Regions from separate parts of the Homo sapiens genome. Here regions 1, 2 and 4 are each linked to region 3. The links come from fine-mapping of genetic effects on gene expression. A gene starts in region 3. Each other region holds a variant in brackets. All regions are shown on one strand. Distances are from middle to middle.

Region 1 (8,105 bases), 180 kb after region 3:
CTGCTCCAAGCACTGCCTCCTGGGATGTTGGCATGGAAGTGGCTGCCCAGCCTGCCCTCTCTGGCTCTGAACCACACAGAGAGCCAAGGCAATGCAGCTGGCCAAGAAGAGATGCTTGAGGTTAGCTGTGGGGGAAGAGAGATCCAGTTATTACGCATTTGCATGGTGGCGGTGCGTCAGCTGAGTGTTTTGTGTTTTGTTAATGAGCTCTTCAACACTAGCTCTCTGGATTGGGGGTCAATGGGTGGGCGTGCTCAGCACAAGAAATGAAACAACTGGGTCAAGGACACGCAGTTTCTGTCCATGCTGGAGGTGGCGTTCCCAGCCAGACCTGTCTCATGCAAAGTGATGGTGCTGTGGTAATAATGTAGGAGGTGTTTCTCCTGATCCTCGGATGCCTCCTTGTTAAACCTGATTGATCCGATGGACTGAGCGGCTCGGGAGCAGCCTGTCCTTTGCTCTGCATACCCTGTGATGGCAGTGGCCAGTGCTACAAGGTGAGAAAGCAGGCTTTGAGAGGGGAGCTGTGTTTTTGGCAGGGGGTATTTCCTGCAATAAGATGATTAGCCAGCTGCCCCTCCCATAGTGGCAGCCTGCAGCAGCACACTGCCCCTCTCCCCTGTGTGTATGTTGGACTAATTAATAACAGGAAAAGGCAAAGAGATGTTCTCCAAGGCATTTAGAACTTGGACTTGAGTATCTTAAAGCTCTTTCTCCACCTTTACAATGGAGCCCCTGTGCCTCGCTAGGGTGGCTTCCTCATGTTAGGTGAGTGCCCCAAGTTACTTTTTATAGCTTTCTGTCTCCCCGCCTACCGTCAGGGTGTCTGGCACCTGTCACTTCTCACTGTTGTCACTGATCCTGTCTGATGCAGCTCTCCTGCTGCCACTTAATTTGTTCTTTTTAATTTGCTACGGGCTTGGAAACAGATACTCAAGCTTATTAGACTTGTGTATAAAATAAGAATAAAGAGGTGTTGCATGATTACTCTAGGGACCTGCTGAGTCAAGTGCATTCGCTTTGGTATGTAGGCTTGAGATTTCCATTTTACCCTTTCCCGGGTCATTTCTGGTATTTTCTAGCACCTGGCTGGGCTCTCGACTGGGGAATCTAAGGCCAGCTGAAGTGCAGTCAGGCAAAGTGACATGAACCATGACAAGGACTGCTTACTTTTATACCCATCGATACTATATTCTGAAGCCTCTCCAGCCTCCCCCTCTTTTGCTTATCTGAGAGATGCCAAGTGCCTTCTGGGGAATTGGCTTTTTGCTGAAAATTGCTCTTGGCAATTTGCAGGGACTTAGAGCTGGTTCAGGTGTTTGAAAGATCCACTCGTCTAAGCACAGGGATAGAGCCAGTTTATTATGAAAAGTTTTATCCATCTTCACTCCTCAGCTGTCCCCAAGTTCAGTTCTTCCCCTCCTCCCCAGTATGGCCACACAATCTCTGAGCCCTTCTTTATTGGCTTAGAGGGCCCTTTCCCGTCCTCTGAATTCTCCACTTATGCCCCGTCCTGATTAAGTTCCACTTCACCATGAAGTCTTCCCTCATCCTACCGGACTTCCTCTAACCTTATGCGTCTGTTCAGCAGTTCACTGATTTGCTCCACAAGTATTCATGAAGCTTTTGGTACTGTATCACATGCTGATTGTTTCTGGATTTCATGTGTGTGTCTCACCTTCCCAACCTTCATGAGCAAAGGTTCTCAGCCTGGGCTTCACATTAGAACCACCTAGGGAGCTTTTAAAACTCTGATGCTCAGGCTGCAACCTAGTCCCATTAAATCAGACACTGGAAGCGCATTTTTTTAACTTTGCCTTTTGAGATAATCGTGAATTTGCATGCAATTGCAATAAATTGTACAGAGGGGTTCCTGTACCCTTCACTCAGTTCTCCCCTCCACGTGGCATCATTTTGCATAACTATAGTACAATATCACAAATGGAAAATTGACTGGTACAACCCACCAAGCTTATCCATTCAGATTTCACCAGTTTTTTGCATTGGCGAGTGTGTATTTAGTCTTGTGCAATTTTATCACATGTGTAGATATGTGCCAGCCAAAGGTCTCTCCCTTTTTCACAGGCCCTAGAGACCTGATCTGAGATCGTGCATGTCAGGTCGCTGGAGTCCTCTTCTGGCCTGCTTGCACAGATAGCTATTTGCAGGGCTCGGGAATGAAATTGAAAATAGACCAAACAATGTGACAGTTTTCTCCTGCTATTTTTTCTTCCACGAACAGAATGTTCAGCATTATTTTTTTCTCTTTGTGCAATATTGCAAGTGAGAAATAATCTGATTGGAATGCTGGCTTATGCTGTTTATGAGCCTGCAGTCTCCCACAAGCTGTGCGCAGGGAGCTTTCCCGAGGAGGACATCTAGGGACTTGCAAGATGAAAGGTTTGGGGAGTAGCTGTGGCCACACCCAAAACGCTGGTGAGGCTAGGAAGTAAATGCGTGGTATGCATACGGATGGTACCCCTGGAGGCTTCTCTTTCCTGGGAGTGTTCTCATGTGTTTTGCCTGAAAACTATCAAGGAGTGGCCTGGCCCATTCACACAGGGCCTGGGAAAGAAGGGTGAGCGTGTCTGAGGCTGGGGTACATTATGTCACAGATTTTGTCTGCTGAATAGCTGGGAGGAGAGACGAGCACCTTGAACTACCTGCTTGATTTTGTCAAACATATGGAATTTGAGGCCTAAGATGGACTGGCTGTAGAGAACACAAGAGTCTGGGTGACAGGTAGGAGACAGGACAAAAGGATACTCTTCTGCATCCTCCTAGGGACTCCTTCCTAATCTCAACAGAGAGGACAGGAAAATATAATTGTCAGTGTCACATGGGAACTTAGAGAAAGTGGAGTCCTTTACTTCCTGGGAGACCTTAATCTGAGGATGTTAATTCCTTTTTTTAAGAAACACGTATGGATCATTCACTCTGTGCCTGGTATGAAGCTTGGTTCTGGGGCACAAAGGTAACAAATACACAGACAGACTAGGTAGGCATTTGTCTGTTTAGATGTGGATGAATTTTATTTTATTTTTTCTCCGGGGGTAGGAGGTGGACTGGCGTGGGGTAAGGGAGGAAGTTGATTATTTTGATTTATTCCAACTTACAAATGCCCAGAAGATGTAGGTATGGGACCATCTGATCACAAAGGTCACATTCCTCCCCTTTCATGCCCATGAAAGTATTCTAGATCTCGATTGGATTGTTAGTTACACAGGTGAAGGCATTTGTCAAAAACTCATCAAAGTGTGCACTGAAGATCTGCACATTTCATTGCGTGTACATCTTACCTTAAAAAAATCACACTCCAAACAGAAATGGAAAAGAAGCAGTGAAGCCCCAGTTAAGAGCAGTCTACTTTCATCAGGAATAAAACCTGATTTTGAAATTTCATCCTAACAACATTTTCAGATGCCAGAACCCACTACATTGAATATACCTGTGGCCCTGCAGCTCTGCCCTCCAAAGCACAGATGTGTGACCTTCAGCAAACTCACTGTAGCCCTGCCCAGGTGTGCCTGCTTCTGCTTCTGGAACACTCTTCCCAGACTGCACTAGGACCAGTGTGGTCCCGCCTCCCCCATGAAGCCTCTCTTGATTTCTCCAGTCAGCCGAAGTGATCTTTCCTTTTTTTGTTTCACCTGCATTGACTGCCTTAATATAACGTGACTCTTATTATTCAGAGTCTTTCATTCACATTTACTAAATAAGCCAGCACATATAAAGAGCGTGGAACAGTGCTTGGCACAAAATAAATGCTGAAGAAGTGATCATGACTATTTTTGTTGTTGCTATGTTTTATGCTTATGATCAGTCCCTCTAAGGCCTGTGTCTTTGACTGACATACAAGCTGATATGTCTTGCAGGGACTGGGTTGTGTCCCTTTGGTGACCAGTGTGATGCTGAGCCCTTGCGCCCATTTGAATCCATTTGAATCTGCAGAACTGTGTGTAAATACTCCAGGCAAACTTGAAGCCCGTGGGTGTAATAGAGACGTGACTGAGGGAAATTCTAGCAGGGACCTCTGTACTTTAATGCAGCACCAATCAGATGGCATGGGATGGGAGGGGATGCCCAGGATTCTAAAACCCTTATCCAGCCCTGTGGTTGAGAGGCCTTGAGAAAAACCTGGTGCCAGGGCCAGCTGAGGAGTGGAGGTGGCAGCCACAAAGGCCATCTTTGTGGACAGCCTTTAGAATCTCCTGTGGGTGTCCTGAGGTGGGGTAATAAGATGCCACTTGATGACAACAGCCCTCCCTTTCAAAGTGACACTTGGCAAAGGGGCATCATGACAATGACACCTGCTCATCAGCCCTGTCCACCTCGAGCTGGCGAGGGCTGGGCCACTGTGCTCATTAGGTCGGCATCTGTCCCCACCAGCCTGCCGGCAGCTGATGCTCATTAATCCTGGAGCCCTGAGCCTATTGGGCCGAAAGAGGCTGAGCTTTTAGAGCCATTTATGGCAATGGCCTCAGTGAGTGCTGCTAGATT[G/T]ATTTATAATTGGGCTGAGGGGCCTCCCTGCGTCCCTGGAGCCCAGGCTCTTAAACTGGGCCAGCCCAGGAGGGTGGTTTTGGCTCACTGGCTTCATGAAAAGGAGAAACGCAGAGCTGGGGTTCCCGTCAGACCGGGCATGGACGGCATCTCCACAGAGCTGACTCCCGCACACCCAGGGCCCTCCTGGCTTGGCTGCCTTGGATGTGTGGTTCCTTGTTGCGACACGAATAGAACCTGTGATAGTGAGGACATGGGCTATTCAGGAGAGCGGGACACTCAGCAGGGTCTTCCTGGCAGGCTTTGGGATCAGTCCTCTGAAGTCACAACAGTTTCACAGGAGAATATCAATAATGAAAATGGCAGGTTATATTTATTTTCTGCTTAGCATTGATCCAAAGGTTTCAAATGGATCATCTCATTCCATGAAGCAAGAACTATTATCAGGCGTCTATGGCAGATAAGGAAACTGAGACACCAAGGGTTCCATAACTTGCTCAGGGACACACCATGCTAGAGGCACAGCGTGGCTTTGGACTAGGTGGCTTAGCTTGGGGCTTTGGTGCCTTTGCTTTCTACTGCTCCAGGCATGGGACTTGGCATTCCCAGCCTAAGCAGTGGGTCTGATGGGTTGTCAGAGATCCTGGGAGCCTCCATAGTGAGATGGCAAAGCCTGGGGTGATGGAAGAGAAGGTGACTGGCAGTCAGGAGACTGGAATTCCAATTTCCTTCCGGTTGCTAAGCAGCTGTGTGACTTTAGGTATATCACCTTTCTCCCCTGTGCCCTTCGTCAAATAGGCATACTGTCCTTAGCTATTGCTTTTAAATAAGGATATCAACCTGAAATACATATTAAAACACTGAGAAAATAATTAATAATGATGACCATGATGGCCTTTGGCCCAGTAGGAAGGCCCCCAGCATAGGTCAAGAGCTTGAAGGAGAGCATCATATTTCAGGTGGTAGAGACAGTGGGCATTTGACAGTCTAGGAGCTGCTTCATCCTTTGCCAGAATGAATCCCTGGTTCTCTCTGTTCTTGTCTTTCTGTATCCTGTGGAATTTCCTGGATTTGGGGGAAGCTGATATCTGCTCACCTCTTTGGGTCTTTTCTTTCTCCCAGCATGGGGCTCTCATGAGTGTGTGGTAAATAAAGCACCTAATCCTACCTCATTCCCCCAATTCTTCCTACTACCTGCTCTCCACTTGCCCTTGTGTCTGTTTCTCTCCTTCTGCTGGTTCACTATCATCAAAGACGCATCTCAGTATCCAAACTGTGAACCCAACTGTCTTCATTGCTGCAGGTTTCAGATTAGCTCGAGTGACGGTGGTGCTTTTTACAGCAACAGAAGCTGCTGATGCATAATTCAACAAACAATCCAGAATTGCATCAGAATCCAAATTACTCACATCAGAAGGATCTTGATGTTAAACACTGTCTCTTAAAAACCAACTTCATTCATGCTGGTTCCTGCGCTTTTATCTTCTAGTATTTGTAAAATTTTGGGGAAGGCTGAGATGCGGAGAAGGCTTTTAGCCTAAAATGGATGGCTGGGTATCCCTGCAGAGAATGCGGGTGGTGTGATGTCCCCAGCCCCCATCCCTGTGCCAGCTGTCAGAGTGGCAGGTGTCTGGGTCTGGATCTTGGGGCAGGATTTCCCTAGGCCCCAGGCAGGTGTGGGGCAGGGCCGCCCCTGGAGGCTCTATTTCCCACACCAAGGCAGGGTCTTTCCCTAAAGAAACGAGCATCCTGCTTCACTCTGGAGAGGGTGCACTGCACCGTGGTTAAGAGTGCACAGGCTTTGGGAGAAGCCTCCTGAGGTTCAAAGTCTGGCCCTGCTGGCCAGGCGCGGTGGCTCACACCTGTAATCCCAGCACACTGGGAGACTGAGGCAGGTGGATCACTTGAGGCCAAGAGTTTGAAACCAGCCTCATCTCATGGTGAAGCCCCGTCCTCTACCAAAAATACAAAAAATTAGTCGGCCATGGTTGCACACACCTGTAATCCCAGCTACTCAGGAGGCTGAGGCATGAGAATTGCTTGAACCTGGGAGGCGGAGGTTGTAGCAAACTGAGATTGTGCCACTGCACTCCATACTTGGTGATAGGGGTTGACTGTCTCAAAAACAAACAAAAAAAATAAAAAACCCAAAACCCAAGTCCAGCCCTGCCACTAATCAGTTGTTCGACCTTGGACATGCTACTTAACCTCTCTGTGGCTTAGCTTCCTTATCTATCAAGTGTGGATAAAAATAGTGCTTATCTTACAGTGCTGTTGTGAAAATTAGAGTTAATTTATATGAGTGCTACATATGTGTTGGCTATTCTTCATCTCTTTCCGAAACTTCCATAGATACCTAGGGAACCTGCAGCTCTCCCCATTCCCTTTATGAACTCCCCAATTTTCAAAGCATGGCATACTCTTCAGTATCTGTACTGAGTCTCCAGAGTCCTTTCTGCCCATCCATTGTGGGGATATCCCAGGGGGCTGGCTGAAGGCTTTCTCTTGATGTGATCACTTTGACCACAGCTCCTCATCTCTAGGGTACATTTGCCTTACCCCTACTTTTGTTCAGCTGTGTGTCCCAGGAAGTCCCCAGGCAACATCACTGTCTATCTCCAGTGAGGCTTAAAGGACCAGAAATTTATATCTCACCAAACTATGGCAGCTCTTGGGATACCAGTTGCCCATATTTTGTGAGAAAACAAAATACCCCCAAACAGTGAAAGCTTTCTGTGTCTTGAACATGTGTACAGGCATAGGTATAATGGGAGAAACTCTAATTTGGAATCAGGCTGCTAACTGGCTTCATCATTTGTTTCCCGGCCATGGGGATCCTGGTCATTCCTTCTAGAGCAAGTGGTCATGGATTGCACTTGCATCTGGACTTCTTGCTTTTTCTGGGCGGCAAAGAAAATCAAGTAATACTCTCCCCTCTCTCCAAGAGGCTAATTGAGGCTCCCAGCTTCCAGGCTGTTTGCCTATCAGAGGCTGCCTGCATGGGTGCCAGGGTTTAACTGGCTGCTGCTTCCCCCTGGTTCTGCCCAGCAGCATGTCAGGGGCCACATGGCCAGACATGAGATGCACAGGTGGGACGCACGTGCCAGCCTGCCTGCAATACTTCAAATAGGACTTTGTGCCCCCACTCAGTGCTGCATCATCAAATTTATCTGGCCGACACCCTCTCTCAGCAGGACTCTCTCTGGGGTCCCTCCCAAGGTTTCCATTGATTTCTTCCTCTCACAGGGCCTCAGACTCTAAAGAAAGTGCTTATTCATCTTGTCCCCACTCCTCATCTTCCTTTCTGCCTGAATGGTCACCAGCCAGCCCCTTGTCCTCAGCCATGCCAACTAGCCCCCATAAAACCCATGGTCCTGTCATCCTGCAACAGCCTCAAACCAGTGATTTCTAGGAGCCTGGAGGGCAGGCTGTGACTTCCACTCCAGTCCAGACCTACACCTGAATGCCTAATTGAGTGTTTCCCCCATTATTTCCAGGTGTGAAAAGTGGGTTATTTGGCCAATGGCTCCCCTAGCTGTTTATCAGCAGCTGTGGTGGCTACCCATTTGCTGTAAGGCTGCAGAGAGATGCAGCTTCACTTTCGC
Region 2 (8,105 bases), 24 kb after region 3:
GGACTCATTTCCAGTGATTATAGGCAGGTGAGAGCTATGGGCCTTCTCCTCCACAACCTTCCTACAAAAGCAAGTTGCAGACTCAATTCTACCCTACCTACCAATATTTGTTAGTAACCAGGCACATAAATAGCCATACAGCCTGTTTTTGAAGCTCAGTGTGGATCCTGCTGTCTGCCTCAACTAGTGTGCCGGGGAAGGGTATCAAGGTTTGCTGATATAGCGGGTCACCTCAACCCTGCAGGTGGACAGCCAGAGGGCACGAGGGGCATGCAGCAGCAGAAGCTCCCTCTCTGGCCCCAGGGTGTGGTAAAAATATTATCACTTTCTGCAAGTGTCAGGAAGTGAGAAAGTTTGGGAGGCACTGACTTAGTAACTCTTACAAGTTTATTTCAAGGAAGATTTATTTGAGGCAGATGTGGCAATGTGGTTGCAGGTTTCAGCTCACCTTCTAGTGGGATTAGAGGACAGCATCCTTTGAGAGATGAAATAGACCCTAGTAGGACCCCTAGGCCAAGAATGGAGCCACAGAGGGCTCTAGGCTTGCCAGATTCTTGTGCCCAAAGGGCAGAGATGCCTGGATGGCATTTCTAACCAATTATGCATATTCGACACTGCTTAATTTCCTGCTGATAAATTGTTTCCAACATCTCTTATGTTTTTTAACAAACAGTGTAGACTCTGATGCAAGGCTTTCAAAGGCTAAGTCACCAGCCCTGGTTAGTTACAATACTTCAGATGTCGACTAACCATCCTTGGGTAAGGATTGGAACTAACTTACATTATACCACTCTGTTTAAGCTGATGCATTTTAAAGTAATTTACAGACATCATCAAGCCTTGGCTACTCAGCTGTGTGGCGTCAGCATGTTACCTGTCTTCTCTGAGGTTCAGTGTCCTTATCATTAAAAGAGTAAAATAAGGGACTGCTCTAACAATTAAGTGACATAATACGTGGGAAATAGCTTGCACACTGCTTGACACATATTAAATGCTCAATAAGTGGAGAGGTAATATTATTGAAAATTGTTGCCTGTTCTTCAGATTCCTAAAGCTTGTCAGTTCTGCTTCTTGCCACCCTGTGTTGGATTAAAACACTTCAGTTTTCTTGGTTTATAAATAGTCACATCTGTTTCTAACACTGGGCTTCAACAAGTCTACTGCCTTGAGGTTCTATAAGCAAATGGGAAGGGAAGAAGAGCAGGTGGCTGGTCCCATTGCATTAATTCTGGCTCTCTGTCAGAGTATGACCTCTTAAAAAAAGATTTAAAAATATTTGTAGGGATTCCTTTATTTTTGGAAGACTCAGAATTTTCTCAGAGTCTAGAATTAACAGCCACGTTTATATATTCAATCTGTGCTCAGATCAGCCATCCACATGTAAACATACGTTATTTTTATAGGACCTGGAGTGATATCTTAGATAATGTGGTTTTTTTGCCAGGCCATGGTGATGGTTACTGTTTTTTTTTTGTTTTTTTTTTTCCTTCAGGTTTACCACCCAAGACTCTGAATTTGGTGTAGGGAGAGCAGATAGGAGACTCTTGGCTCAAAGCAGTGGCTAACCATTAGTGAGTAATTATTGCCTGGAGCCTACCTGATAATTATGCCAAGCATTGCAGGATGGGGCATCTGCTAATGTTTGCCTGCAACGAAGTCAGAAAGCTGAAGTGGTCCATCAGAGACCAGAGAGGTGTGTTCAGTGTACATGGTGTTTGCATACTTGGATGTCCTCACTTGCCTCCAATAGGTGATATTTATGAACACTGCCCATCTCAGCTGTCTTCAGCCCCAGGCCCTGGTTTCCTGGAAAGATAGCCTTAAACTGGTGAGTAAGGGCCTCTGGGATTCTCCTGTGTAAAGCCAGCCAGCCAGTGAGAACCCTCTGCCCTGAGGCACCCTGGTTCAGAGCGTGCTCGATTCTTCCAGGCACCTTAGCTTTGAAATCAGTGAAATCTCTGCATGATGACAAACGATTAAGCTGGAAACATTGCATTATTCCCAGCAACACTCGGGCTGAGAGAGGAAAGAACCACTGGTTGACTGTGGAGAAAGGTGATTTGCCCCTGTGGAGAGGGAACAAAAGCTTGGAGACTCTGGAAACGGAGTGTGTCAGTGTATTTTGAAGGTGATGGGACATCTGTGAGCAGAGAGTCCGGCTCTGGTCTTGTGGAGGTGGTCTTTCCACCACATAGCACACCATGGGGAGATTTGCCATTGCTTCTCTGTCCCCTAAAGGAAAAGGGGCACCTCATTGTCACACTGTCCCCCCAGGGTCCTTGTCACTGCCATCCTCTACTCTTCAGCCCTTCTACAGTGACCACAGGCCCTGTGTTCACTAGAACAGCCTGTGTTTCAGATATTCTGTGCCATTGCTTGAGTGTGTGTCCTGATATTTTTGGTTTGAAAATAGTCATGTATCTATATCTATATCTATCTCCAAATGGGTATCCTTGGGCAAAATTGAGAAATAGTTGAATTTTGCCCCAAGTACTTGGGTATCTCCTCTCTATTTCTCTCTTTCTTTCTTTAGACAGGGCTTTTGGTGATATACACTGTAGTGTGTATACCTGTGAGCTGGGAGCAAATAAGGGCTGAAATTCTGCTCATGTTTTATTGGCCAAGGCTTGGTGTATCTCTTTGCTCAGGAAGAGTTGCCCTTTTCTTCCCCCAAGATGCCTTCTGTTTACCAAGTTCTGGTCAACCAGAGAGGACAGCACTCCCTAATTCTCAGCAAATAGCCATGTAGATCAGTGGGGACCCTGCTGTTTGCACCCTCTCCACTCTCTTCTGTTTATCCTTGGGCCACAGAAAAACAGAGGTGATGGAGGAGGTACACTAAGGTGTAGGTTGTTGAAAGAGAAAGCATGATGCTTGACCCAAAGAAACCATGTTCCAGTGGCAGACTTTTAGCACGTCAATGGAGGGAGTAAGATATGGACTGGTGCAGGGGTGCTTTGCTAGGACCTCTCAAACCAGATGGGAAGGTCCTATGTGTGGCCATTCTCTAGGTGCCTGTGCTTCAGATTGAGCTGGGGGACAGCTGTCTCTGGCCCCTCTTTTGCACTTAATTTTCATGTACCCTGTCAGGAAGCTCTCCCCCTGGGCTGATGACCATCACCCCTTGGCTTTTCTGATGGGTCTGGGGAACCTGGAGATCCTTCTGACTGTTATGAACCTCCTGGGGGCAAAATACCATTCGCAGTAATGTGGAAAATAGCCTAAGGGCTGCTGAGAGCTGCCTCCTGCCATGTCCCCACACTTCCTTTATGTGTGTC[C/A]TCCCTGTCATTCCAGGAAATGCTGACCTCAGGGTGAGCAGGTTGCAGGCCATGCCTGGGGCTGGCAGAAACATATCTCAGGACGCATCTGCAAGGCTTCTAGATCATCCATGTGTGGATGCCGTGCCAGAGCTAGGCATTCAGAGCAGCAGGTTTTCTGCCTGTGAGGTCCACCCAGAGATACTGGCTTTTCCAGCAACCAGAATTAGGAAGAACTTCAGTTTCATGGCATGGGAGCCCATAGCACCCCAGAATCCTGAGCCAAGCATTCTAACTGCTAACAAGCCAATCCCCTGCCTCCTGGCAGAATCACCCCTAAGAGGGCTTGTAATGGGCAGTACTGGCCCCAAGGCAAATTTTTTTTTTTGAGTTTCTTTTATCCTAACACAACTTCTACTTCAACTAGCATCACTGAGCTGGCTTTGGGGTGAGGGTCTCAGGCACCTAATTGATTTTATACAGAAAGGCATTTCTCCTGATATTAATCTTTAGGGAAATGAAAGTCCACTTTTCTTCTGTCCAGTGTTTTGTGGCCCAAAGGGGGTGTGTCTCCAGATGAAGAAAATGGAGTATCAGTGCTAATTTGAGATCCAGTGAGCAGCGGCTCGGGTAATCAGATACCACTTCAGCTGGAAACCTCACACTTGCAGAAGGACTTTTTATTCTCACCTTCCAGAGCCTTCTAGCTATGGGGTGTGCTACAGGAAATTGGGAGCTGATGAAGAAGCGGGCTGCCCCATTCCCACCCCCAGGGCTGCCTGTAGAGAATCCAGGCCCTTCATTTCCCAGTGCCTAGCATCTTGGGGCAAAGGTACTTCCAGCTACTGCTTGTGAACCAGAATTTTTGAAGGGGGGTAAGAGTAACAAAGAGCCCCAAACAAATAACTCCCCCTGTGACTTCTTTTTGACCAAGTGTTTGCTGAGAACTAAATCAACTCTCGTAAGTGTGTTCTTTCTTAGTGTTTTAAAACAAGGTCTAGGAGTCAGGGCTTTAGCACTGAGGTTCTGGGTAACTCTGCCAGCTGTGATCCTGGACACCATCTCTGAATGGCTTTTCCTGCCCCAATTAATGTCTTCCTTGCTCATCACATTAACTCTCACCGGGAGCTTTCCTGTCAAAGGAAGGAGGCGGAGCAAGCACTTAGCTTTCCATCTACTGTCAACTTCGGCTGCATCTTGGCTGCATGTGCAGCATTGATTTTACATGTCCCTCCTCAGCAAACCTGCTAATAAGATTCTTTTCCCTCCTCTCCTTCCCCCCACCCCCTTCAACCTGGCCCTGACTCCTGGTCAGACCTTGATTACATGTCTCATTGATTCCATTCAGCTATTTATTAATACACTAATTAGTATGTTCATTTAAAGGAGAGTGACACCGCTTTTTAAAAATAGATGTACAGAGGTGTAGGTTAATGGAAATCTCTGTTTATTTAACATCGATGTCTGGTGTGAAGAGGATTAGTTTTGGATGTTAAAAGGACACAGAGGTTTTTCCGGGGCTTAAATCACTTTAGCTGACAGTCACTAACACCCTTTGAAAGGTGACACCTAGAATCATATTTCATTTTCCTTCAGTGATCATAGACACTGCAATATTGGGGTGGGGAAACTAGAGGGCAATTGAGAGAGTACAGTACAGGGCTGGTGGTATTACGTCTTTTGCAGAGAGCTCTGATTGTGTATGGGGACTGGCTGGCCCTTGCAGCCTCCAGCGAGGTATACTCACTACTCTGGCTGTAGGACACGACCGGCATTTTGTAATGAAAGGTTTGTGAATGGAAAAGCATTGCTTTTCTATTATAGGTTTGTTCTTTTTGTTCTTGAGTTGCTCACTATTAATCATGGCTGGTTAATTCTGTAACAAACCACCACAGTTCAATATGGGTTAGTATGTGGGGGGATTTTGCTCCATACAGTCATTCAGGAGCCCAGGTTCCTTCCATGTTGTGGCTCCACCATCCTGTTAAGGGCTTCTCAATTTCCCACTGGCTCTTCTGTATCTGGTCAAGAGAGAAGGGAAGAGAAAATGTGTGAAGAAAGCTGCTGAGTGCTCTGGGGACCTGGGTGTGCACCTAAGCTCGCTGTCTCCAAGTTCGGCATGCCAGGACTGCACTTTGAGTGTTGGGGAATTGTCAGGAGGCTGCTGCTGTGGTCCAAGGGAGAAATGATGAGGACTGGGCCTGAGGTACTAAGTGGAAGGGAAGGCAGAGGCCCAGAAGTGGGTCTTGGTGAGAATTAGATGAGGCAGCTGAGGGGCACGGAGGACCGAGTGGGTGCTTGTGCTCTAGCAAAGGGAGAGAATGCAGGAGAAGGAAGAGGTGGGGCTTGTTTTTGAGGAGCTGGGTTTGAAGTGTCTATGGGACAGCATGGAGATATACTGGGTGTGTGAGTGGCCAGGAGGTCAGGGAGAGACCAGGATTAAGGTCTGCACTGCAATAAGTCCCAAATTGGATGAGGGACTATAGGTGCAGATGTGGTCATTGCAGCCCAGTGGGGTAGGAGGACTATTAGGGTCATCAGCAGCAGAGGAGCTGGACTCTTCCTTTCCTCCTCCCGCTGAGTCTGTCAGACAGAAGCCTTGAGGGAGGGGAGGACAGGGGAGGTTAATTGTGTATAGCAGACCTTGGTGCCTTGCAAATACAAAATAAAGTCATATTTTGGTTAAAACTCAAATTATGCTGATTTTTTAAATTAGCTGAGCTGTGCTCAGATCCTCTTTAAGTGTCTACTAATTGCCTCCTGCAGCTGAAGAAATGCTGACCCCTCCCTCTCATTGCTATTCTCCCTGTTAATCCTAGCCTGGAAGAGGTCCTTCCCCAGATTCCTTCCAGCACAAAGAGATCAGGCTGTATGTCTGAATACAACTTTTTTTGATGGATCAAGGGTAATAAAGGAAACACAGAGAGTAACTTAACACTTCTTCAAAAGGTAGCCACTGTAGGCATCTCCAGGCTTAGACCTGTCCTCACTTGTGGGTGCCTCATGCCCCACTCCTGGGCATCCTGCTCCCTAGAGGAAGGGCAGGCTCACCACCATGCTGTGGGGGTCAGGGGTACTCTGAGTTGCAATGAAGACCCACATTCCAGCCTTCATTGTCTTCCTAGGGAACGTTCACTTCCTTCAGGGTAAACCTTACCCTTGGGCAGCAGGTGGGGTATAGCCCTAGCCTTATAGAACCCACAGAACAGCCACAGCAGAACAAGGTTCCAACCCCAAAGTCTGGGTTGGTGCTCCAAACTGCAACTGGATCCTGGGCTCAGCCTCCACCTTCTTGTAAAGTGAGGATCTCACCCACCTGTGCTGTCTTCTTCTGCCTAATTTTCAAACTATAACTCTACCTCTCTCTACCTAATGTTCAAACTGTGGTTTGAATTATAACTTGTCTGCCCATCCACAAAAATAAGCTGAGCATTCTAAAGTCATTTTAAGAAAAAAATCCTAGCCCCCATGCTGCTCCCCAAACAAACAAACAAACAAACAACTCACCCCAAGGGAATATTAAAGATGTAGCAGTAACTTAACCCAAATAGCAATTGTCATGACTGCTGAGGAATCCTCCCTGCATTTGATGTACTTTGCCATTTTCCAGAACACTAAGGAGGGTAATGACTCAGGGAAATGACCCTCCCAGAAGCACGGAAATCTGCCCCCAGGAAGATTTTAGGGTCCACTCACTTTTAAGGTTTTTCCTGCATTGATGGTTCCAGCTTTCAAAAATCTTGGGAGGGCCCAAATGTGTCAGCATCACCAGGGTTGGGACCCAGGATTTTTTTTAAGTTCCCTAGGTGATTCTCATGAGTAGCCAAGTTTGGAATCACTTCCAATGTCTGAACTAAGTGGTTCAGTTCCTACCAAGACACCTCAAGGGTGTGAGTAGTTAATAAATATTTTGTACGAGGGGAAATTAGGTTCCCTGGGATTCCTGTTTTCTTAGGTGGGATGATGATAGGGGCCTTACCAGAAAAGCATCCTGATCCAGACCCCAACAGAGTTTTCTTGGACCTCACACAAGAAAAGAATTCAGGGCAAGTCCATAAAGTAAAGCAAACGCAAGTTTATTAAGAAAGTAAAGGAGTAAAAAAATGGCTACTCCATAGGCAGAGCAGCAGGATGAGCTGCTTGATGGAGTATACTTACAGTTGTTTCTGGATTATATGCTAAACGAGGGGTGGATTATTCATGAGATTTCCAGAAAAGGGGCAGAGATTTCCCAGAACTGAGGGTTCCTCCATTTTTTAGACCATATAGGGAAACTTGTGGATGTTGCCATGGCATTTGTAAACTGTCATGGTGCTGGCCTGAGTGTCTTTTACCATGATACTGTATTATAATTAGCATATAATGAGCAGTGGGGACGACCCGAGGTCACTTTCATCACCGTCTTGGTTTTGGTGAGTTTTGGCCAGCTTCTTCACCACATCCTGTTTTATCAGCAAGGTCTTTATGACCTGTATCTTGTGCCAACCCATATCTCATCCTGTGACTAAGAATGCCTAACCTTCTGGGAATGTAGCCCAGTAGGACTCAGCCTCATTTTACCCATCCCCTATTCAAGATGGAGTCACTCTGGTTCAAACACTTCTGACAGGGTATATTTTACTCTGCAAACTAGGAAATAACAGATTAAGGTTTAAAAGCTACGTTGGGTATTTATTGGAATGTTTAGGAGAATCCTTGGTCTTGGTCTTGGGTGAGAACATGCCTAACCTTGGGTCAGAGCACATTTCTCTTGGCCCAGGGCTAGGAACAGAGAACTCAGACTGCCTGGCAGCGTCTCTCACTGTTATCAGTGTTGTCTACCTCCATGTCCCACTCCTGGGCTCTCTC
Region 3 (8,105 bases):
AAGAGTTTCTTCTCCTCTTTCCTATTAAACTGGTCCTTTTATTCAGCTGTGGGAGATGAACCAATACTTTTTCTGTCTAAACCCAGCAATAAACCCCAACCCAAGTCCCACAGACATAGCTTCTTTAGAAAACAGGACTCTCTGAAGCAATGTGCCATTTAGCTTCTCCCTCTTGTGGCCATGGGTCCAGACAATGACATAACCAGTTTCACGACCAGGCAAGAGGTAGAGGGAGTGACTCACAGAGCCATTGTCAGTAGGGGACACCTAGATGGTCCTACTTGTGTCTCCCTTAGCCCTCACCAAGGGAGAGGGGGTAGAGGAGGTGTGAGAGCCAGAAGATCTTGTACCTAATGCAGAAACACATTTTGAACTGTGGTAAGATGCTGCTTTTGCCTGTGTATTTATTCTTGGGGTGGGGACAAGATAGCAGAAGGCCTACCCTCATTGTATCATTCTATTTGAAAAAAATAAAAAGATACATTCATCTGGAAAGCGACTCTAATTCCCTACATGTGTTTTGTACCTACCTTAGAGTTTCAAAGCACATTAATAAGATGGTATGTCCTTTGAATGTCATTGCAACTCTAAGGGGCGAATGTGTCAGGTGAGAGATGAGGTATCATTGAGAGGACGTGACCCGCTCCAAATTGTAAAGCTGGCCAATGACAGAGCCAGGAGTAGGACATGTGTTTTCTAACTTCCAATGTAGAGGCCCTACTCATCCCACCCCATTCCATTCTCCTAACTTAAGGGAGTCAATCCAATGGGTCATCACTGAAAAAAAAAAATCCTCTACTGCAGCTAATTTGACCCTTTCTACTCCTCCTTCCGATAATATGATAACTGCCCCCTTTGGTATGCCTTTTACCGTGTTATTCAGTGGAAGGCAACCGGGGAAAGGCAATTTGAGATATGGCCCCTGGCCCCATTAACAACGGGAGAGCTCGCTGGGCCCCTCACCTGCCCGTGGCTGGTCCAGCTTTTTGCTGTGTGTCTTCCCTGTCATTTGGCTCTGTTATTACTCTTCAGGCACCACATGGCATTCATTTCTTTGAATGAAAATAAATGACACCACACACTAGGCAGGAGATAAAGAATAATAAACACATTTTATTTGCCACCTCTGGAAAAAAAAAAAAAAAAAGGTCTTTGACTTCCCGTCCATCCATCAGGAAATGGGCCTGGAACTCAAGCCATATTCACACACACACGCACACACACACACACACGCACACACACACAAATACAACCGATATGAGGAGGAAAAAGACAATCAGATTGTATTAAAAATACATGCTAGAATGACTGAGAATTGAGACAGAGTTGTTTTCTCACCTTCCCCCCTTCCTTTCAGCATTTTATGACATACCCTGAAAGCTGAGTGGCCAACAGAAGTTTGAAAGGAGTCTCCCCCGCGCCTTTAATTGAACGATATTCCTTAAGTAACCCATTAGGGACTTTCATGGGGCTATCCGGGCTGTCACTTCTGGAAATGGGCCGTGATGGACCCATGCAGCAATTTTAAAAGGGACACCTAGAAGCAGTGTCAGGATCAGGTGATGCAAACCTTACATGGACCTTGGGGTGACAGGGCCTCCTTGGATTTTGTATCCTCAGTGCCCGGCTGGCCTTGTGCTAATCCCAGTCTTGCAGAGAGAGGCATTTGGCCCTGGGCTTCCTCCACCCTGGAAGGATGTTCAAGAGGCAGTAGCATTGAGTGATTTTGTTATGTGTGTCTCTGGACTTCTGAAACTAACCTGATATTGTGTGCTTTATCTAGAGTCTGGGATTCAGGGTTTCTGGGAAGAGTGGAGTCAGATCAATGTATTCATGTAAGCTTAATAAGATAACTCCTTGCTGCTTTCTGGGCCATGCAAGACTCAGCAGAGAACCAGAGACTAAAAGGGCTCCACGCTGTCTCCTGGAATATCCTTTAACCAAAGAATCAAACATGTGGTTTCCTCCTCATTCTGGCTTGGTTCATCTTCTCATTGGTGAGAGCAAAGTTTCAGCAGGGTCCTCTCTGGGTGGGCCAAGCCTGACCTATATGTGCCGCTCACCTTGGGGCTTGTTTAAGCTGTCATCTCACAGCTCCTTTCAAAGGCTCCCCAATTCACACAACTTCGATTTCTGTGAGAATATAACCCCTATAGGGAGGTATAGGCATTTAAGCCATTATCAGTCATGTCCACCTAATAAGGAGGCTCTGAGATGTTTCGATGGGAGGGACAGTAATGGGCGGGAGTTTCTGGGTGTGAGGACAGTGAAAACTAAAGAAGGGACAGGAGAGAGGAGGCCAAGAGCCATGGGCTCCTTTAGAGGGTCGTCCTTGCTGGTTGCCTATCCCAGGGAATGCTTACTGGACTCTGCTGAAGGTGCCACTTCCCTCAGACTATGGTGGGAGCGGGTATGAGGATGAGGGTGGCATGCACAGAGTTGAGTTAACAGGTGTGGGAATCCCTTCGGTTTCTCTTGGTGGGTGGGCCCATTCCTAGGGGGATCTAGGCAGAGGTTTGGGAGGTAGTGCCACCCACTCCCCATCTTCACTGCCTAAACCAGAGCTACATGGTGATTTCTTTCTTTGGGCTTCAGAAACCACCCTGATGTTGGCATGGTCTGTTCTGGATGTAGTCTAGGATCTAGGGTTTCAGAGAAGAGAGGAGCCAGGAGAGCCGCTCAGTATAAACATGAATGGAAAAGTCAGGTTACCAAGCCAGCTCTGGGGCACTGGCCACTCATGTTCTCTCGTGCGGGCCTTGTGCCCTCAGTGTCCTCGGCCTCCTTGGGTGCCATGTGGGGGTGACTTGGTGGGGTGTTGGGAGGGGTTCTGACTAGCAATGGGTGTATGCCTCAGAGTCAGTGTGCGCTTGTGTCAGCTCTGAGCACCTGAGGGTCCCTCCGACGGCCAGCGCCCAGAGCTGCAAATTCCGAGGCGGCTGAGCGCCTCCCTCTGAGCGCGCGCCGTGCGCTCCGGTCACCCATGTATGCCCCTCTCTCCGCCCCACATCGCCACCGCCAGGGTAGCTCCGTGCGGGCCGAGGGGACCCAGGGGGGTGTCGGCAAACGTTGGTGCGGAGGAGAGCCGGCAAGCCGGGCGGCGGCGGGTGGGAGCATGTAGGGAGGCGCCCCCTGCCCCCTCTGCCGGCCGCTCTCCCTCGCTCTAGATGTCAGCCGCGAGCTCCGAGCCAGCGAGAGCGAGCCAGAGAGGGAGCGGCGGCGGGCGGCGGGCGGCAGGGAGGAGAGGAGGCGAGGCGAGGGAGGGAGGAAGGGAAGCAGGGAGGGCGGGAGGGAGGAGAGGAGGACCCAGAGAGCGCCAGGCAGCTGGAGTTTTTGCAGCGCTTGGCCGGGCTTCAATGCACAGCAGCAGCGAGCCGCGGCGGCAGCAGGCAGCCCGGGAGCTCCGGCGGCGGCCGAGCCAGCGGCGGCCCCGCTCCCTGCCCCCTGCAAACTTTGCGAGCAGCCCGCCCGGGGGGCCGGGGGCGCGCCCGGGAGGCCCGGCTCGGCCCGCGGCCGAGCTCTCCGCCGCCGCAGCGCCAGCCGCCGCAGCCACCACCGCCGCAGCCCCGCGCCTCCCCGGGGAGCAGCCGGCGGCTCCCGCGGCCCCCCAGCCCCGGCCCCAGGGCACTGCCCGGCGAGTGTCTCGGCAAGGGTGGGGGCTGCCGCGGCGCGGCCGGCCGCGGGCTGCCGGGGGGCGGCCGCCGCTACCCAGAGAGGCGCGCAGAGGCGCCGAGAGCGCTCCCCGGCGGGTCCCCCGCGCACTCGCCGCGCCCGGGCAGCGGCCCGACCGGGCGAGCATGGGCGGCGCGGAGTGACGCCGCTGTGCCCGCTTGGCATCAAGGACATTCAGCCCGCGGGGGTGGGGACGAAGGGGGGCAGCCCGGCGTCGCCACCGCAGCCCCCGAGAGCCGCCGCCGCTGCTCGGGCTCCGGGGCTGGGTGGAGGAAAGGGGTGTTCGGAATCGATCCCCATTTTCCGACCTTTTTGTTGGACATTACGCCCACCTTGGACGCCGCAAGAGAAGCTGTCAAGCCCCGCAGGCTCTGATTCGGCGCCCTCCGCGTTCCTCGGCTGCTCCCGGCTTCCCTGTGCCTCGGTGGAGTATTTGCGTTCGGGGCTGGGGCTGGAGGAGGCAGCCACACGCGCGCACACGCACACGTTCAGAGGAGGGCGAGAGGCAGCGGCATAGGCTCCATCTGCAGTGTCAATGCGGCGCTCCCGCTGAAGGAGGGAAACGCGGCGCGTCCAGGTAAGGAGCCGGCCCGCCGGGGAGTGGGGCCGGGCGGGCGGCGAGGGCAGCAAGGTCGGACAGACCTGGGCCGACCCGGGAGTCCTCAGTGTCCCGGAGCCAGCCCGCGGCACACGCACACGCACACACGCAGGCACACACACAGATCCACACCGGCACACACGGCGCTCGCGCACCTGCCCACGTCCCACCTGGACGCCCGCGGAGGTGCAGCGGCCGGAGCAGGGATTTCCCGGGTGTGTTCTCCTCTCACGCTCCTGGACTCAGACTTCTCTTTCCCGGGACTTTCGGGGTGGGATTCTGTGTATTCCCGGCTCTGCCTCCCACCCGGGGAGGTTGAGGGAGCAATTTTTCAGCTCCCAGCCCCTTTCGTCCCTAGCTGGGCTTTAAAATGGGAGAAGTCCTGAGAGGTTTCCGGAGACCTACCCAGTGTCATCGCGGCCCCGTGGCCTTTGGACACCCTGGGATTTCAACGGGAGACAGACCCACAGATATTCGGACGCATATTTGGAGAGAGTGGTGGCCCAGCGCCCGGGGAGGAGGCCAGATAGGCGGTTGGGGCTGCAGTTCTGTAGGGCGGCGCATATGAAACAGACACTGCGTTTCCCCAGTAAGAGGCAGCACAAACGCCTTTCTGAAGCGTGGCACTGCTTCCCCGGGAATGCGCCGAGATTTCAGGCAGAAAGCGGCTTAAAGCATCGCCGCGTATGTTGCTTGTCTAGGGAAGGTACGGGGGTCAGATCCTCCTTAAAAGGTAAGACCTTATTCACAGCCTCAGTGCCTGCTTAGCAGCAAGCAGACAGGACTTGGAGACACAGGACTTGGGTCCCCTCTCACCTCCCTACCCTCCCTGGGCACATGGGGCTGCCTTCCCCGGTGCCTCCGGCTGGCGAACACCTGTCACATGCCTTTCGTGGTGTGTGTCTGAGAAAGAGAACTAGAAGGGGGAAGCACGAGGGATATAGTCCTCCAAAAGAGGAGGCTCCCCTCCCTCACGACCGTGGCGGCACTGCCCACCGGAGAAGGCAAGGCATTCGTGGGTCTGCCAGCGTCCCCCAGAGCCCAAGCCTGCTCCGATTGTAGAATCACTCCCCAGACGCCCGTGCTTTAAGGTCCTATTTCCCGAAAGCATTTTCATTCTTGTTCTCTCTGGCTGGAATTTCACAGGCTGCTCATTTTAACTTTTTCTGGAGGAGGTAGGAAGTGGCTGGGGTTCTAAGAGGCTTTTCCATAGTTCCCTTCTTGGGGTCTAAGAGCAACTAATTTAGGGTCTCAGTTGTCATAGGGAGAAGAACATGAGATCCAAATCAAATTCGGAATTGAATATATATGTACAAGCTCCTGTGTTTCTGGTGCTGTCACTTTGAGGTAGCTTTCTAGGCAACATGATCATATCATTTTCCCACAAAACTGAATAAGCTTGTACCCTCTGTCCAAGATCATGTGTTCAGAGTATCCCACAGACCCACCAGTGGAAAAAATATGTTAGGAGCCTTACAGAACATGATGGAAGAGGAGCAAACATTCTTTTGAACAAGGAGGCCTCAGTGCTAGGCTCAGAATTTGGGTTGTTTTTGTAAATCCTGAAGATAGGGGCTGAATGAAAGGGCTTTTTCAGCACCCTGACTCCGCTATTTCCAAACTTTTTTCAGCTCCTGCAAAGGTCTCTGGCTAGGCTGGGGAGAAGCGCAGACACCCCGGGAGGGAGATTGTATTCCCGCTGTGTGCTGTGTGAGCTGCCCTTTGATTGATTGAAAAGCATAGATGGAATAAAGCAAATCTCTCACAATGGAGAGACCCCAGTAGGGGGAAGAAACCTTATTTGCTTTTTAAGAATGGTGGGCGTGTGCACACACACACCCAATATATATACACACATGCGTTCTCAGAGTCTGGCTAAATGTGGTCAGCTCCCCGCCCCCGCCATGTGTGACAATGGGGTCCACCTCTGTCTTCCGGGCTGTGGAAGAAATGGAACATTTCTCCCCACATGCCCCTTGAGGGCGTGGACAGGCAGATCCCACCTACGCGTACAGCAGCACATGGTTTGCAAAAGAAATAATGAGCTCCAGCAACAGTGGGTGCCTCCCAGGTAAACAGTCCCTCATGGGACCTGGAAGAGGCAAAGGGATAGGGTACAGGATCTTCCTGAAATGTCTGTGTCTTCCCTGTAGACCTCCACTCCTTTCTCTGCTTTCCTCCCTACCCTCTTTCCTTTCTCATGTATTCGCAGCCTCAGGATCCATCATTTTAATGCAAAGCTAGTATCATTATGCTGGTTATAAGCTAAACATCTGGGTTCAGAAAATCTCTGCACTTTCTGCACTTAGCATTAGGTACCAATTTGGTTTCTAGGACAAGGCAGGCATTAATTAACATCTCTGTAAAGCGGAGTATACATTACGTTTTCCTGGCTCTCTTGCCCAGCCCTGGAGCATGCCACGCTGTCATTCACCCTCTCTGCCACTCTTCTGTGCCCTTCCTTTTAAGTTCTCTGAGGTCTTTCTCACTGGGAAGGGAGTCACACTAGAAAAACCCCAGCCATGAATGCTTCTTTTCAGCAGACCCTCGCTGCCTGGTAGACGGTGCTTAAGGCAGCTCTCCTGTGAGCACTAGGCATGGGTCACCTACAAGCTGCTCCTTCTTACCCAATCACGCCTCCCCGGGCTCTCATCTGTCCTCCCAGGACTTCCTCCTGGATGCCCACTGGGACACTGCAGACATTTCTGGAGGACTCCAAGGCAGTCAACTTGTTTCCTTTCTCCTTCTCTGTGCCTTCCTGTCGCCTGCTGCTGCTACTCCCTGCAGACAGGGAAATCTGCACGGCAGAGTCTGCCTACATACACTTGGCCTCGGGATCCTTTTCATCACAATGAGGGCTGCTGGGAATGAAGTGGGGGCTTTCTAGGATGGCAGCAGTCCCGAAGTGGGAGAGAGCTAAAGGGGCTGGGTCATTAACCACTCTTGATTCATAGTTATCATCAGGCTTTGATGCAGAGAAATCGCTGTGGATCTCTCTCCTCCTAGCCAGCTAGGGGGCATTTCTTAGCTGCTTCTCCCCATCCTCACCTAGAGAAGGCATACGCAGACAATGCACATCAGAGACCTGTTGGAGCGGCTCTGTGGTGGGTTACAAGGGGGCGGCAGCAATACAGAAAACACGACCATGATCTTGGCTCTCATTAGACTATGCAACAGATGTGCCAGCGTCTCCTCTCTTCTTATTTGTGTCCAGTGCTACCCAATGTGAAACTGGCTCAGACCCTGGGCTATTGAGTAGGTTCATTTCCCTCCCTTGACACCTCCCTTCCTTTTCCTCCAACCCCCACTTCTCTGCCCCCACCACTTGCTAATCTACCTCTTGGCTTTGTGCGCACATCCGCCAGCCCATTCGCCCTCAAATTTGCGGCACTCCAAGAAATCAATATAACATGAATTTAACGACAGCTGGATGATTAAGTGTTATTTATATTTAAAAGCGGCATTTTAAAAAGACGTCTCACTAATAAATGGCTGTTTGGGAGATGCACATGATTAGGGTAATTGGCCTATAGGCTCTATCGAGCTATGCTTGGTCCACACAGGGCCCTGTGGACAGGACACTGTCTCTTTAAAAGCTGCAAGCTCCACTGCTCCCTCCCCAGACTCCCACCTGATCCCCTCTAGCTGCACAGACTTTTTCTTTCTTCTTTCATGTTGTCCTCACTGCCCAGGCTGTACCATTCAAGTTGCGGTAGGAAGGTGGAGCCCACAGGGAGACTGAAGGGGGCTCTGCTGCTGAGTGGTAAGAGATGGATTTTAAAACGAAAGGCAGGCAGGGGTCCTGATTCCCCTGGAACAAGAGCCCAGGCCTTGT
Region 4 (8,105 bases), 91 kb after region 3:
TAAAGCACCAGCTGTGGCACATTGAGTTGAATCAGCACATTCCTTCCCCCATTGCTCCTTTCCCCAGCTGATTGCCTGCACATGCCTCTGTTGTGATAGTGCTACTTACATGCTAATGTTTTCAGTTCCCTAGTCTACACTTTTGAGTCCTCATGTGTGTGTCTGCTCCAGATATGGAGACCACATCCCTCTTCTGTATAGATACGAAGACCACATTCCTCTTTGTGTATAGATACGGAGACCACATCCCTCTTGTGCCTGAGCAGAGCGGCCTGGAGCCCCTGCTCATCTGGGCTGACCCAGGGCTTTTCCACGTGAGGCTTTTCCACGTGAGGATGATGATGATAATAATGATGGACAAAGCTCCCAAGATGGCGCTGGGAGGGGTTGGATGAGGGGCAGAGACACACAGATTATGGAGAAAGGAGACCTGCGGACCTGTGTTTTCTGCCATGTCCCTGCACCTGCCCACTCAGGTGACTCTTCACAGGTCACCTAGTTTCTCTGGAGTGACGTTTTTCATGTAAAAAAGAGGGATTGTTACCAGATGTTTCATCTCTAAGGATTCTTCTACCTCCATAGTTTCCTGACTTAATATCTCTGCCAATTTCCTTGACGCTCCCTTCTAATTTTTCTCTTTTTAAAATTTGCAGCTCTTAACCATTGACGATAACTTCTGTGGCCTGGACATGAATGCTCCCCTGGGAGTGTCCGACATGGTGCGTGGAATTCCCGTCTTCACGGAGGACAGGGACCGCATGACGTCTGTCATCGCATATGTCTACAAGAACCACTCTCTGGCCTTTGTGGGCACCAAAAGTGGCAAGCTGAAGAAGGTAGGAATGAGGTGCAGTACTTTTGGTTACTGTGAAGACAGTCTGTCCCTCCTGGGCTGGATGTTATCTTACATCTTTTTGCTAACTTGGGCGTGTGGGCAGGTGATACAGATTTGAGCTAAGGAGATACGCTGCTGTTGAGGTCATGATGATCATCTTGTCCTTTCTCTGCCTCTGTGCTGAGGTTGTGGGGTGAGTGTGTGGATTCACCTCCTCCCTAGAGCTGGTGTGCACATGAGAGGTGTCAGACCAGCCTTGCAGTGTTGTTCTAAATGGTGTATGCTGTGTTCAATTTGGGCTTGTGCCCTTAAGGCAAAGGCTTTATTAGGTCTGAGCAATTGGGGAAGGTGGGCAGGGGGAAGGGACATGCCTGTTCCCCTTGCTCCAGCCCTTCTGGCTGCTGCATCATCTGGAATGCATTCAGGGAACAGATGGAGGAAAGTGCAGACCTATTAAAGTTGCAAATGGGGCCCAGAGCCAAGTTGTGGGCTGAGAAAACCACGGGTGCAATGGGAACATGAAAATTGCTCTGGTGAGGTCAGATGGTATGATCTGGGGACCTGACCTTTCCCCTGCATCTTCCGGAAGCTGGCAGGTTCTGGAGTCCTGGGCGATCTTGGCTCATCAGCTGTGTTGGGAGCAGTCATCCGCCCAGGGATGTTTTGTGTTCAGGCTTCTCATCTCATGAGTTGGAACTGGCCCTATAGTGCATGCCCTTCTTGATTGGGTTAAAAGTCCTTCTAAGGTGGTAGGCAGGAGGTCCTGTTTCCTGTTGGCCAATAATTGCATTTTAGTCCTTTCCCAGGAAATATTGATGATTCCATGTGGAGCTCTTGCTTGCTTTATTTTGGCTTCTTTTGGGGTTCTCTGGACATTGTGTGATTCAGATTGAGTAAAGATTGAGACTAAGCCTTAATCCCTCCATTTCCCTTTGCTGTATTTCTGGCTGCTAGCTCTGGATGGTCAAGAGGAAATGTTCTGGGCATATTTAGAGGACTATGCCTATTTTACCATCCAACAATGTAACAGCCCAGCAATCATTTCTGTTGGCATCTCTGCGGACAGGTGGTGTGTCTGGAATGGGAGCATGTGGAGGACAAGAGGCGGGCACCCCAGAGTGTGTTTGTGACTTGGGAACTTGTGTGTGGAGTAATTCTATGGGTAATGACTGGGAAAGAAAACAATGAGCACTGGGGAAACACCATGGTACTCTGCAAGAATGGTGTCCATGATGTACCACACAGCAGGTGCTGCCCAGGAGGAAGTAACTGCCTAATTTGAGTGGACCGCCTTCAGTGTCACAACTAAAAAACAGCAAAATCATTGTGTACACATTTTTAAGAATTGTATTTCATAATTCCCTGCAAAGAATTGTATTTCATACCTCCGTTCTGTGAAGAAAATGGTAAGCGCAATGGAATCTTTCCTTGCTGCCTCAGACTCCTCGTGATTTTTGTTCACATATTGAACTGAGTTTTGTGGATGCCCAGGGAAGACGCTGTGAGACATGGGCATGTTATCCCCACACAGCTCCTGTGTCTGATTTTTGCTGCCTTCCCGGGTCTTCCTCTCATGCACTTGGCCACTCATCACTTCCAGTTGCTGCCAGGAATCCTGGTTGACTTCAGCACCTTTCCTCCTCCCTCATTCTGCAGCTTCCAGCTTTGGTGGGCTAGGAAACCAGATAGCCAAACTCTGAAATTGTGTCTGACACGCGTCAGTCCACACTGAGGAGAGAAGTACATGAGCTTTTGGGCAGGTGAATCAGATGGCTCGATTCTTCAGTAGGATTTGGCAAATTTGGTCTGCTGGAAAAGTGAATTCTAAATACCGGGGGCATTACTGTGTACAATTCATGCACTGAGACCTGCTTCACCTGCTGCAATGGGTGAATGAGCACCATTAAGAGTAAATAAGTCAGCAAGCAGTATGGGGGATGCTTTAACTCTTTTCTCCGGTGAGCTCAATCTCAGTGCAATGTAGAAGTAACTTCCTGCCTTGCCCTAAAAGAGTCTTACCCGCTGAATTTCCTACCAGCTGCCAGAGGACCATTTACTAGCTGGCAGGATGGAGTAGACCCTGGATGAGGATTTGTGTGTGTGTGTGATTGTCTGAGCTGGTTGGGCAGTGAATGTTATCAATGAAATGAACATTGAGAGTTCAGTGCACATAACAAAACAGTTATTTTCTCTTGGAAAAAGGAAGGTGTTTCCTGACCATGGCTGCATTGTAAACCCAAGATAGTCAACTTGCATTTTTGTGCTGTTTGTCCAAGGGTGGGTTGAGGCATTTGGTGACTGGTACTCTCTTGCCTGTGGAAGCCTGTCCAAATCTGTTCCCCGACAGGGAGGTCAAGTGCAGCACCATGAGTTTGGGATCAGGACACCCCCAGGAGCCTGGGCCAGCAAGGCGCTCAGAGACAACCCTCCTGAGGCAGGTAAGGACAGAGTCCAGCAGTCGGTCAGGCAGGCAGTGACAGGTGACACAGGCAATACCCCACCAAGAGGCTGGGGCTTCATAAACCGCGGCCGGCATTCCCATCTTTTACTTTGGTAGGTTGATATAAGAACAGTTCTGTTTCAGCCACCTGGGATATTCTATCTAATTTCCAGAGCAGTGGTGGGGCTGGTGAGGCATAAACATTTGAAAGGTAAGAGCGCAAGGGTCAGTTGGGGGGAATGAGCCTTCGGTCCTCCCGGGGAAAGCCAGGCCACTGGGGCGGCCAAACTTTCTGCTCTGCAGGCTTGGAGTGGCAGCCTTTTAATGGTTTTGCTCAAGCCCGGCTCCCGTGCCTGCAGACTCAGCACAGCTGGCCCAGGGGAACAGTCTGAGTTGGGAAAGGAAGGCTGGGCTGCCGAGTCTGTTGTTTGAAATAATAAAAAGCAAAAGTGGCCCATTTATTTATTTTTTCTTGAACAATAGAATTCCCCACCCCCACTCACTCACTAAGCACCACTCCCCTTTCCTTGTAATAATTCTGACTTGCTTTTCCCAGAGGTTATCAGGACCACAGTCACCTTTTGGGCAGAGGCCCAGCCGTGACAAGTTGTGGAGCTGCAGGAGGATTTTGCTGGAAGTTTTGCAAGTGACTGAGGCCAGGGCGTGAGAATAATGGAAATCATACTGTAGCCATAATTACAGAGTTGGTTTCTCTGAGCCCTGTAATAATCTCCTGTGTGTATCAAGGACCTTTCAGAGTTCTTTACGGTATGACAAGAGACTGGAAATGGGGGTAGGTGGGCAGGAGAGAGCTTGGGGGGATGCTAAGAGTAAGGGTGTTTGCTGTGGGTTTCAGGGGTCCAGGAGCTAGACCGAGCTATCCGTGGGCTGCTCTCAAAATTACTTTTTATTTTGCTTGAAAGGCATGAGTCCCAATCATTTGCAACCTTGTCTTTGACGACCGTAATTTCACTCCTTTAGTGCACACGTCACATGAAGCGGGGGGAAAGGAGGTGAGGAAAGTGCCAATTTAGATGTCTTTGATGTTTTCTGATGTGTGTGTGTTGC[A/G]GATGGTATTGGCAGCCTCTTCCTGTGGTGAGCTTTAAGGGTATGTGTGTTAAGAAATATGACCTATAAATACTACAGTCATAAGCAGGTGTCTAGGAACTTAGCAATAACCTACAGACTGTTAACATTTCCACTATAGGTAAAAATCATAAGGCAAATGCCATCTTGACTGGCTTTAGGGCCAAGCAAACCTAAATCTTTGGCTTGAGTTGGGACAATCAGCTCAGTGTTGTCTCAGAAGCACGAGATTTCTTTGCTTGAATATTTCTGCTGGAATCTTTTCCCTCTCTTGCTTTCTCTGCCTCTTGCTTTCCTTTCACTAAGCGATCATTTTTATGGCTGCTGTTCAGTGGTGAATTACTGCCTGACATTAGTGGGAGAGACTAATGTTCATTGTGAACCAAAACATCATAAACTTCCACTTGAGGTGTGATTGCTCCTCTCGCTGGTGATTGCGTCTTCCCTGGATGTTTTTGCTAGGTTAAACTGTTCACACCTAAGGGGGTGGAGCGCTGTATGGATGTTGGTTAAGCGGAACTCTGGCTGGCCCTGCTATTAGCCTGTTGCGGGACATGCATCCATGTGTCTGTGCACAGACTAATCCATACCAGCCTCTCTGAATAGGTACTGGGTGCACATTCCCATGAAGAGGCAATAGGAGTATATAGTACAAAAACCATTCTTATTGGGAATTGTCATGTAGATTAATTTAATCTTCCTAATTTTTTTTTCTCAAGCCTGTTTTAAAATTAATTTGCTTTTGTTCCCTAGTCCTTCGGCACAGGTCCACAAGGGGGAATCACCCAGGAGTGGATTGGAGTGGAGGGAGACCCACCTGGGGCGAACATTGCTTCTCAGGAACAGATGCTGTGTGTGTATCTTCAGTGCTCAAGTCACAAAGCAATATCAGATCAGAGAGTCCAGCCTCTGCTTTGTTGCTTCCTAAATGTACCTGGGAATTCTTCCTAAAATTACTCTGGAAATTTGAATCCACTTTAACTAAAAATAAATATTCATAGCACAGAAAGCCCTGCAGATGGATGGAAGTGTCAGGAAATCAAATGGAGATACAATGTTGGAACACCAAATAGACTAGGAACATGTGGTTAGGGCAGAGGGCATATGTATTTGATACAGGGTTCGGTCAGGTAGTTCTGTTGTGCTATATGTTTCTCCAGCCCAAGCTGCCATGGGTTCATGTGTGATTGATCACAAGCACAAAGGGAAAGAAATGCAGAAGCATCAGGGCTGACCGATTTCCATGACAGGAAAAGACCCTCTATTTGCTATATTGTGTCTGCATTTTCCATCCCTGGTTTTGCAAATATTAAACCTGCATAGACCTTACCCTGTGGGTTGTGTGAAGGGGAGGCTGAGGTTGAAGGGCTCCAGGCAGAAGATCCCACAGGTGTGCCAGCGTGCCACCCTCCCTCCTCTGATTTCACGTTCAACCACAGACAGACGGCATTCTGTCGTTAGTCTTTCCAGCCTGGGAATTCTAAGACTGGCCCTTCAGACTGATCTTGCCTCAGACCAATGTATCCACTTCTCATGGGCCTTCCTCCCACCTTGTTTCAATCTCTTCTGCTATGTTTTAAGCTTTCTTCCCAAGTTTTACTCAGTTGACTAAAAGAGCAACTAAGCTGGTTGATATCCTCTTGGACATATTTTATATTCTTGAACACTATTAAGCCCTCACTCAATCACCCTTTTGATGTAAGTGTGGCCACACTGGCCCTCTTTTCTTATCTTTTTCCATTTCTCACTATTCTGCCCTTGGGCCCACCCACCTTCCCTGCACATCCCTGGGGGATCTCAAGTGGTCCCTCCTTGCTGACCTGAATAAACCCGGGGAGGTGTTCTCATCGTGAAATTTCTACTGCAGCCAATAGCTAGGCATTGTTGCATTCTCCTCCTGACTTCCTCCTGAAACACACATTGAAATCCCAGCAAAGAGTTTCTCAGGAACACTTGTCATTCTGTTTTCCAAGTGATCATTGCTAGTGCACATGATTTAAAGAGATAGTCTTAAATGAGCTTTGCCAATTCAAGATTTATTGATACGTGTGCCACTTTTTTGAATCATATGTGTGTATATATACACACATTGGTATAGAAAGATCCTGATCATAAATTAAAATGCAAACACATTAAAATTGAAGAAAGTGCTGCACAAACACCCCAAATCATAGAGCGCATTCAGTCAGCTGATACACAAATGTCAGACGCACTAGAGGAATTTATCCAGTGACACATGCAATTGAAGTAAAATATTGTGCTTTACAAAAACATATCATTAAAATGAAAACTAGCAGCATATTAGGAGTCTGGCCATGTAACCAAGACAACAAAGATGGGAAAGGATGAAAGACATGATGTACAGAGGAAGAGGGAGGAGGCAGAGGCAAGAAGAGGGAATGAGCCCCCAACCATAAGTGGTCCTTTTACTGCTGGGCTCACACCTGCTAGACTCTGGATAGGAGAATAGAATCTTGATGTCAATACCAGTGAAGACTCCTAGCGAGGGTAGAGCCAGGGGAGGTCTTTGTTACCGGCAATTGCTATGATTTCCTCAGCCACTCTGATGGGGAAGGCAGTGGCAGTTGGACCAATTCACAGCCCATGAGTTGATGTTCTGATTTGGGGTCTGCTGAAAGTCCATACTTGTTCTTAGGGAACTTCCTGGGAATGTGTCCACTGGGCTTGCTTATTGATGATGTCATGGTGCTGCTTTTCGCAGCAGTTCTGGCTTCTCATAGAAGCATCCATGGTGACTTTTTAAAAGAGGTCTCTCGGCCGGGCGCGGTGGCTCACCCCTGTAATCCCAGCACTTTGGGAGGCTGAGGCACACAGATCATGAGGTCAGGAGTTCAAGACCAGCATGACCAACGTGGTAAAACCCTGCCTTTACTAAAAATACAAAAATTAGCCGGGCATGATGGTGCACACCTGTAATCCCAGCTACTCAGGACGCTGAGGCAGGAGAATCTCTTGAACCCAGGAGGCGGAGGTTGCAGTGAGCTGAGATCGCACCATTGCACTCCAGCCTGGGCAATAGAGTGAGACTCCATCTCAAAAAAAAAAAAAAAGTTTCTCGAAGCTCCCACACTCACTCCATACCTTCTCTCCTGGCCCAGGAGACACAGGTGTATTAGTTATCGATTGCCGTGAACTACTCCAGAACTTAGAGGCTTTGAACAACACTTATTATCATACATACAGTTTCTGTGGTTCTGGAATCTGGGCATGGCTCAGCTGGGTCCTCCGGCTTAGGGTCATGGTATTGGCTGGGGCTGCAGTCATCCCACTGCTAAAGACCAGAATGGGGAAGAGTCTACCTCCAATGTCACTCCCGGGTTTGTTGGCAAGCCTCAGGTCCTCACTTGAGAGATCCCTACATTGCCATGTGGGCCCCTCCATGAGGCCACGTGCACAACAAGGAGTGCAGCAGCAGGCTTCTCTAGAACGATGTCTGAGAGATGGGGGCGAGAAAGAGGCTGAGCAAGGTGCAAGCCATTGTCTTTTTGAAACCTGGTTTCAGAAGTGACACCCCATCCCCTTTGCTGTATTATGTCTTAGAAGCCAGCTAGTGGGTCCAGCTCACACTCCAGGAAGGGACTCTGTAGGTCATGAATACCCAGAGGTGGGGATCACTGGGGGCTATGTTGGAGGCTGCCTTCTACATGAGGGCTTTGTTTCTCAGCCATTGAGGGGACTTGAACCCATACTTTCAAACTTCAAGTTCATTTTTAGTAGTGTGGA

Direction of the effects. Positions count from the first base shown, and alleles are read on the strand shown. Sizes are in standard deviations (SD) of each study's normalised expression. Not every link is listed here.
For the expression in esophagus muscle of the gene that starts at base 4,201 in region 3, T is the high allele of the variant in region 1 and G is the other (moderate effect, 0.62 SD a copy in GTEx).

What was found.
Region 1: its variant is fine-mapped to the expression of PLXNA4 in esophagus muscle (GTEx, PIP above 0.99). The same link has a PIP of 0.9 or more in sigmoid colon and stomach.
Region 2: its variant is fine-mapped to the expression of PLXNA4 in whole blood (INTERVAL, PIP above 0.99).
Region 4: its variant is fine-mapped to the expression of PLXNA4 in blood mononuclear cells (TOPMed, PIP 0.99). The same link has a PIP of 0.9 or more in whole blood.

The regions. Positions count from the first base shown.
Region 1 is chr7:132,395,027-132,403,131 of GRCh38, reverse strand. All of the region lies in intron 3 of PLXNA4 (plexin A4), which reads left to right. Among named protein-coding and RNA genes, the nearest start is that of PLXNA4-AS1, 47 kb to the right of the region's middle. The variant G/T (reference allele first, on the strand shown) is at 4,501.
Region 2 is chr7:132,548,426-132,556,530 of GRCh38, reverse strand. All of the region lies in intron 1 of PLXNA4 (plexin A4), which reads left to right. Among named protein-coding and RNA genes, the nearest start is that of PLXNA4, 24 kb to the left of the region's middle. The variant C/A (reference allele first, on the strand shown) is at 3,279.
Region 3 is chr7:132,572,566-132,580,670 of GRCh38, reverse strand. PLXNA4 (plexin A4) reads left to right here and starts at 4,201. Exons shown (of 32, transcript NM_020911.2): 1 at 4,201-4,249. RefSeq lists enhancers at 3,762-4,739, 4,740-5,717.
Region 4 is chr7:132,482,023-132,490,127 of GRCh38, reverse strand. PLXNA4 (plexin A4) reads left to right here. Exons shown (of 32, transcript NM_020911.2): 3 at 654-836. Among named protein-coding and RNA genes, the nearest start is that of PLXNA4, 90 kb to the left of the region's middle. The variant A/G (reference allele first, on the strand shown) is at 4,344.